2 linked regions of the Homo sapiens genome follow. The protein of the gene in region 2 purifies or fractionates together with the protein of the main gene of each other region. This does not show direct contact. Each region holds a gene or a part of one and is shown on either strand. Other genes may lie near its edges.

Region 1 (3,917 bases), on a different chromosome or scaffold from region 2:
TTTTGGTAACTCAAGGGGATTTCAAAGTTGAGGGAAGGATATTCAAGTATAGGAGGTTGGGTGGGATATGCAAATATGGGAGGCTAAATGGAGAGACAGAGTGAAGAAGTGAGAGAGGGGATAATTGATAGGAAAAGGTCAAAGGGATCTCAGGGACAGGAAGAGGTCAAAGGGATCTCAGGGATAGAGTTAAGGTGACAGGTGGAGAGGTTAGCCATTGAAAAAAGGAGCAGTTAATATAGAAGGGGTGGAGGTGAGTACTTGTAAATATAAAGACTGGGAGTTTATTGAGGATAGGCATCATATCCTATTCGTTTTGATAATCCCAATGTCTAGCACATTTTTTGGCATGAATTCTGTAAACATCAAGTGCCTGCTCTGTGCCAGGCAGTATTGCAGATGCTGAAGATGTAGCGGTGAGCAAGATAGACAAAGTCTCTGCCGTCTTGGAAAATCCACTCCAATGGGAGAAATAGACAACTCATAATTTCACTTAGTAATAAGTAACTGTGAAGGCAATAAAACCTATTTCATGTGATAGGGCAATTTGTAGTGGGGCTATTTTAGGTAACATGGTCAGGAAATGTCTCTTTGAGAGTTGGCATTTAAATTGAATTGCCATGATGAGGAGGCAGATGTAGAGGAAGAATGTTCTGGGAATTTATAAAGGCCTTGAAATGGGAACAGGCTTGTGTTCAAGAAACAAAAACATGATGAGTGAGTTATCAGTCAATGTCAAATGAATTAATTACTCTTTGCTTTAGGTGTACAGTTGAGAAGTTGAGAGTTTCAAACCTAATGGACTCAGTGACTTTGATGACAGTCTAACAAAGTGGTTAAGAGCTTGGGCACAGAAGCTAGACTGGTTTTGCATCCTGGTTTTGTCATTTGCTAGCTGTGTAACTTTGAGTATATTACATAACTTCTATGCCTCAGTTTTTTAAATATGTAGAATGGGGATCATAATACTAACATGAATTGTTTTGTAGATTAAATGAATCAATGTATGTGCTTGGCATGTTGACTGCTATGAAATATTAGTTACTGTTTTTTGTCTGTTTGTTTTTGCTGAGAATGAGGGGTGTGGGGACTTGAAGAGAAGGCAAGGATCATGTCTTACTCTTTTATTTTTGGTCTCAGTGACTGTGTAGAATGTGGGAATAACTCTTTCATTTATCCAGTGACTGAATAGATATATTTTTGGATGAATGAGGCCAATCAAAATCGGAACATTCTGTTGGGGAAAGGGGTTGGACAGGAAATGTATGAAGGAATGTATGATCTGTTCTGAATGTGAATGGTGGTATAACCATGCACTTGGGAGGCACCATAGCACAGTGGCTAAATGTTAGAGCACTGGAGGTAGACTCCCTTAGTTCACGTCTACCTTTTTCTACTTGTGTTAAATTGGGCAAGTTAATTAGACTTTGTCTGTTTCTTTACTTGTAACTTTGTAGTGTTATCAAAAGGACATTATGTCCGCACCTGGTAAGTGCCCATGAAATGTTACCTGTTGTTATTATTAAAATCACATTTAAAATTCCAACCAGCATGGCACTGTATGTTTTTCCACACAAAATAGAAATGGAGAAAACCTAGTTGAGTTGATTTAGGGTTAAAGAAAAAAGAAATGGAAGGTTTTGGGGACAGTGTTTGACTATATGGTAAAAAGGAAAGTGATGCCAAGAGGGAACTGATAGACTGGAAGATAAAGAGGAGTCAGAGTATCTGGGTCCTGAAGTCCTAGAAGAACAATGTTAGTGAAAACAATAGAGGGGATTGTGACCAAAATGGGGAATCTAAACTTAACCCCCTTAGTTTTTTCAGCTGCTTTATCTCTTTCTTGTTAGAAATGGTATTTGAGTCCATCCTTCAGATGCATGGGATTTTGGTTGTAAGAGGTTAAGTAGTCATTTTAGCAAAAGTTCAGGGATTATTTTATTTTACTTATTTTGAGGCAGGCTGGAGTGCAATGGTGTGAACATAGCTCACTGCAGCCTCAACCTCTTGGGCTCAAGTGATCTTCCTGCCTCAGTCTCCTCCAGTAGCTGGGACTACAGGCATGCACCACCATGCCTGGCTTGTTTTTTATTTTTTGTAGACACAGGGTCTCACCATGTTGTCCAGGCTGGTCTTGAACTCCTGAGCTTAAGTGATCCTCCCACCTCCACCTCCCAAAGTGCTGGGATTATGGGTGTGAGCCACCATGCTCAGCTTGCTCAGGGATTATTACTTGGCACTAACCATTGGCCCTATAAAAATTTATAAGACACAAATTCTAGACTTGAGTTTACTGTCTATCTGGAAGTGCAAGATACAAAGGCAGATACTTATAGAAGTGTTAAATGAAATGACCAAGAAAGTATAACCTACTATGACAAAGGCATGGCATTCTAGGCTGGCTTAAAAGCATCAGCAGAGACAGGAAAGCACAGTTTGTATGTAGGTAACAGTAGGAATTCTGTTAGAGCTAGAATGCAGGTGTCATGAAGGACAGTAGTGGAATTCATTCTGGAAATGGAGGCTTTGGCTAGGATGGGGCATCTTGAAGACCAAGGTAAGAATTAGATTTTATTCAGTAGACACTGATCACCCTTGATGGTTTTAAGCTATGAAGAGACGTTATTTATTGTAGGAATATGTCAGGAAGTAATGCGGGATTGAATCTGTATGTGTACATCTGTATTTGTGCATAGGTAGTAATTTTCTTCATGTAGCTGTTATATCAGTGGAATCCTGTATAGTGTATAAACACAAGTTAAGGCAAAAACTGCTCTATTGGTATACTGGTAGGTAGAAATGTGAAATGAATTAGTTTCCTAACTCAAGAGAAGAAAAAAATCTTGCCTCTGGGCTTAAAAGGAAAATAAAAATGTCAATCTAAAAATACTTTTGTCCTTTAATATATTTGTTTAAAAAATCAACAGAATAGTCTCACTTTTTTCTCAAAAACCAGATTAAACATTTAGGTTTTCTGAGGAGGGGTTAGGTTAATTGAGGTTTAATTTATATACAATAAAATTCATCCTCTTTAAATGTTCATTTGAAGAGTCCTGAAACTATCACCACAGTCAAGTATAGACTGTTTCCATCACTTCATATAAAAAGTTCTGTCAGGCCCTCCTACCCCTGGTTACTGACCGCTGCAAATCAGTTTTCTGTCACTAATATTTTACCTTTTCTAGAATGTCATATAAATCTAGCTCCTTAAGGGCAGGGCCCCCAGGTATTGTTCATCTTTCTGTCTTGTATCTGTATTTCCTGTAAGTGGAAGCTAGACCTTAAGGGTTTATTAGGTGTTCATTAGAAAATTTTTTAGCAAGAATATTGTATATGGCGCTGGGTACTGCATGTTGCATCCCATCCAGAGGTTGTGAGGTTGTCTCACTATTTAATATGTTAAATCTGATTACTTGGGTAAGACGGTACCTACTAGATTTCATCTCTGTAAATGTATGCTTTTTCCATTTGTAAAGAACAAGTAATCACAGGGTAAAAATTTGAGCACATTGTGAATGCCTTTTACCTAATGCTTTTAGCATTCTTTGATAATCCTTGTCTGAGTCAATAATTTCATTAGGGGTTGCAAAATGATGAATTAAAAAATAATTCTGTTATTTCTTCTATGTTTATTAGCTGGTACTCTTCTGCAAAGAAGAGTTGGCCTTCACTGACTGTCAGTGAAATGTAGTTTCTCCTAATCCAGCAGCATAAATGCTTAATTCTCTTCCCTCATTAGCCAAATTGGTGTAATAGTCCAGTGGTGGTGTGGCAGGTGCTGTGGTTAGGCTTTCAGATCCCGCTTTCAGGCACATGTTCCCCTAGCTCTTGGCAATATTGGCAGCTAAAACTGATTGCAGCTGAGTCCCACTCCACGCATTGCCCTGAGCCAAGAGTTGCCTCCCCCAGAGTCATGC
Region 2 (3,917 bases):
AGCGGGGAGCCCAGAGTCCCCAATCCAGCCCAAGAAGGGGCCTGGGAGGATTTGGCAGAGGCGTTGAACTCATGGTCACCACCCTCACAGACTTAGCTTTACGGGTGTAAACAGCCAATGAACAAGTTAACCAATCAAGGAAAGAATTGCAGATCGAAGTAAAACGGGGGTGGGGCAGGCAGCAACACAGGCTACTTTAGCTGGGGTCAGCAGGGAAGGCCTCTGAGGAGGGGACACCGAGTCTGAGACCTGAGGTTGAGAAGGCGCCAGCCTGGGATGAGCTGGGGAGAGGGCACACAGGGGGCAGACAGCCAGCGCCCAGGCCCCGCAGTGAGAAAGAGCTGGCTGTGTTCCAGGAACGGCAAGGAGTCCTGCGTGCCTTGGGCCAAGTGAGGGGCGGGTGGGAGGGAATGAAATCTGTGGAGGCAGAAACCGCGCCCCATGACGGGGGAATAGATAGATCTCAGGTCATCTGGCAGGGCTGGGAGCCCGCAGGCCCTGGGGCAGCTGTCAGCCCTGGGGCCTTTGCCTGTGACTCGTGGAGTCCGATCACTTCCTTCACCTGCTCAGAGCCTCCCCTGGCTCCACCCAAAGTCCTCACCGTGGCCTGTAAGGCTCCATACAAGCCATCCCCACCACTGCCCTGTCCTCAAGCTTGGTCTCCCTCTCACTCTCCCTGCTCCAGCCACAGTGGCCTCCTCGTGGACACTCCAACAGGGCAGGCACGTTTCTTTGTTTATTTTTCTCTTTTTAAAACTTTTTTATTTATATATATTTTTTGAGACAGGGTCTTGCTCTGTTGCCCAGGCTGGGGTGCAGTGGCGCAATCATGGCTCACTGCAGCCTCAACCTCCTGGGCTCAAGCCATCCTCCCGCCTCAGCCTCCTGAGCAGCTGGGACTACAGGCACACACCACCATGCCCAGCTAAATTTCATATTTTTGGTAGAGAAAGGGTTTCGCTGTGTTGCCCAGGCTGGTCTCAAACTCCTGGGCTCAAGTGATCTGCCCGCCTCGGCCTCCCAAAGTGCTGGGACTACAGATGTGAGTTACTGTACCCAGCCGGCCAGGCACATTTCTGTCTCAGGGCCTTTGCACTGGCTGTTCCTCTGCCTGGAATGCTCTTCCCCCAGATGTCTGCCCACTTGGCTCCTTCCCCACCTCCTTCAGATCAAATGTTGCCCTCTCAGTGAGATCCCCCTGAAAATTGAAACTGCTCTCTCACCGTCCCTGCGTTTTCTACTCACAAATCGCTATTTAACCAACTCATTTATCGTGATTTTTGTCCAACTCTCTGGTTAGGATGTCAGCTCTGTGAGGGCCGAGATCTCTGTCTCATTCACAGCTGTCTCTCCAGCACTGAGAACAGAGCCTGGCACATGGTAGATGCTCAATAAATTATGATTCAATAAATAAAAGAAGGGAAAGAAAGGAAGGAAAGAGGGAAGGAACTGGCAAGTCTGTGGCTCTTGCGGTTTGTCATCTGTCCTAGCTAGGAGGCAAGAGTGTTAACACGTCTCCTCTTCCCGAATAAGATGGTGCCAGGCTGGGAAACTGAGGCATGAAGGGACTCTTCATAGCAGTCCTGGAGCAGTGAAGAAGGAGCCAGGCTTCAGACCAACTCTCAGTGCCGGGCTCAGAAGAAAAAGCCCCTGACGCCACCTGCTGGTGAGTAGTGTCATGACGGTTGTGCCCACCTGGCGATGCCCTTGCCAGGTGGGCAGGAGAGGAGGAAGCCCAGCGGCATCCCCCGCAGATGTGCAGAATCCATGGAGCCAGAGCTTAAGCCTCTTCATTCCTGAAGCCCCGTGGGCACCTCGCCCGATCAGAGCTATGCAGGAGGGTGGGGCCCTGCCAGCAGAAACCTGCCGTGTGTCACTCTGTGCCCGCACACCTGCCCTCCCTCCACAGCCAGCCAGGACTCCCACCTCTCCAGGAGGGAACAGCTGCCCCAGCTCCATAGGGCTGCATGTACCCTACATGGGGCCTCTGGAGGGCAGGGGAGTCAGGGCCCACCCAACTCCCCACCCAGGCCTGGGCAGTTTCTGGTCACAGCAGCCAAGGCGGCAAAACCTAGGCTTCTGGAGGAGAGCTGCCGCCATCCCTAGAGGTACATCCTCCGGCCAAACAGGGGTCTCACCACCCAGACATCATCTACGATCTTCCCATCCTGTGAGGGACAAAAACAGGGACAGTAGTTAGAGCTGAAAGCCTGAACTCTGGGGCCACATGGCCTGGGTTCCAGTCCCCTCTCTGCCCTCTGATGGGCTGTACAACCCTGAGCAAGTGGCTAGGCCTCTCTGGGCCTCAGTTTTCCTCATCTGAAAAGTGATAGGAAGAGTAACAGTACCCACATCATAGATGTTGTGGGAGTTAAATGAGATAGTATTTGTAAACAGAGCCCAGCATATGGAAAGGGCTATGTAAGTGTAGGCTATTATTAGAGCACAAACTCTGGAGTCAGACAGACCTTGCTTTATATTCCAGCACATCCACTCTTTCTCTCTCTCTCCTTTTTTTTTTTTTTTTTTTTTTTTAGACAGAGTCTTGCTCTGTCACCCAGGCTGGAGTGCAGTGGCAACCTCCGCTTCCCAGGTTCAAGCCATTCTCCTGCCCCAGCCTCCCAAGTAGCTGGGATTACAGGCATGCACCACCATGCCTGGCTAATTTTTGTATTTTTACTAGAGACAAGGTTTCACCATGTTGGCCAGGCTGGTCTCGAACTCCTGACCTCAAGTGATCCGCCTGCCTCAGCCTCCCAAAGGCATGAGCTGCTGCACCTGGCCAGCGCATCCACCCTCTAGGTGGCCTTAAGCATGTTGCTGGACTCTCTGAGCAAAACTTCCATGTTCTATGCAATGCACAAAGTAATAGATGCCCAGAGTCATCATGAGAACAGAGTGAGATCATGCACACAAAAGTCTGCGCCCGGTGCATGTGCCACTCGATAAATGGTAGCTATCAGATCCCAGCTTGGCCGTCCTCCAACTGTGTGACCCTGGGAAAATTACTTCCCCTCTCTGAGCCTCAGTTCCCTCACCTATAAAATGGAGAGGAAATCCACTCCTGTGGGATTGTTTTGGTGTATAAAGTGCTACTGGGGCCGCATGCGGTGGCTCATGCCTGTAATCCCAGCACTTTGGGAGGCCCAGGTGGGTGGATCACCTGAGGTCAGGAGTTCAAGACCAGCCTGGCTAACATGGTGAAACCCCATCTCTACTAAAAATACAAAAAATTAGCCGGGTGTGGTGGCATGTGCCTGTAATCCCAGCTACTCGGGAGGCTGAGGCAGGAGAATTGCTTGAACCTGGGAGGTGGAGGTTGCAGTGAGCTTAGATTGCACCACTGCACTCTAGCCTGGGCGACAGGGTGAAACTCTGTCTCAAAAACAAATAAATAAATAAAGTGCTACTAAATGCAGAGCATCTAGGCAGTGCCTGGTATGCAGTAGGTGCTCAATAAATCATAAATATTGTCATTATTTTAAAACTACAATGGCAAAAATAAAGAAAGGTGAGCCATTATTATTTGGATCCACCTAACCTTAAGCCACCTGTACCACATACTCATCTTATTGTTTTCCCCTACCTGTGTCCCACCCCCCATCTTTATCTTCCCCTGCCTCACAATGGTAAATACCTACAGAATTTACCAAGTTCCGCACTCTTCTAAGCATTTTATATATAATAAGTCCTTCAACCCCCATGTAGTCCTGTGAGGTGGAAACTATGATTATCCCCTCTCACAGATGGGAAAACTGAGGCAAAGAAGTTAGATAAGTGGGCCCAGCACAGTGGCTCACACCTGTAATCCCAGCACTTTGGGAGGTTGAGGCAGGCAGATCACCTGATGTCAGGAGTTCGAGACCATTCTGGCCAACACAGTGAAACCCTGTCTCTACTAAAAATACAAAAAATTA

Evidence for each region.
Region 1: the proteins of ACP7 (region 2) and MYCBP2 purify together in Homo sapiens (affinity purification with mass spectrometry; 2 studies listed by BioGRID and IntAct, with this or other methods). This does not show direct contact.

The regions. Positions count from the first base shown.
Region 1 is NC_000013.11:77,320,178-77,324,094, reverse strand, and holds part of MYCBP2 (E3 ubiquitin-protein ligase MYCBP2), read left to right. Parts: intron 1-3,917. UniProt on the Homo sapiens protein: Atypical E3 ubiquitin-protein ligase which specifically mediates ubiquitination of threonine and serine residues on target proteins, instead of ubiquitinating lysine residues.
Region 2 is NC_000019.10:39,108,304-39,112,220, reverse strand, and holds the end of ACP7 (acid phosphatase type 7 isoform 1 precursor), read right to left. Parts: intron 2,169-3,917; coding exon 2,103-2,168; 3' UTR 728-2,102; downstream 1-727.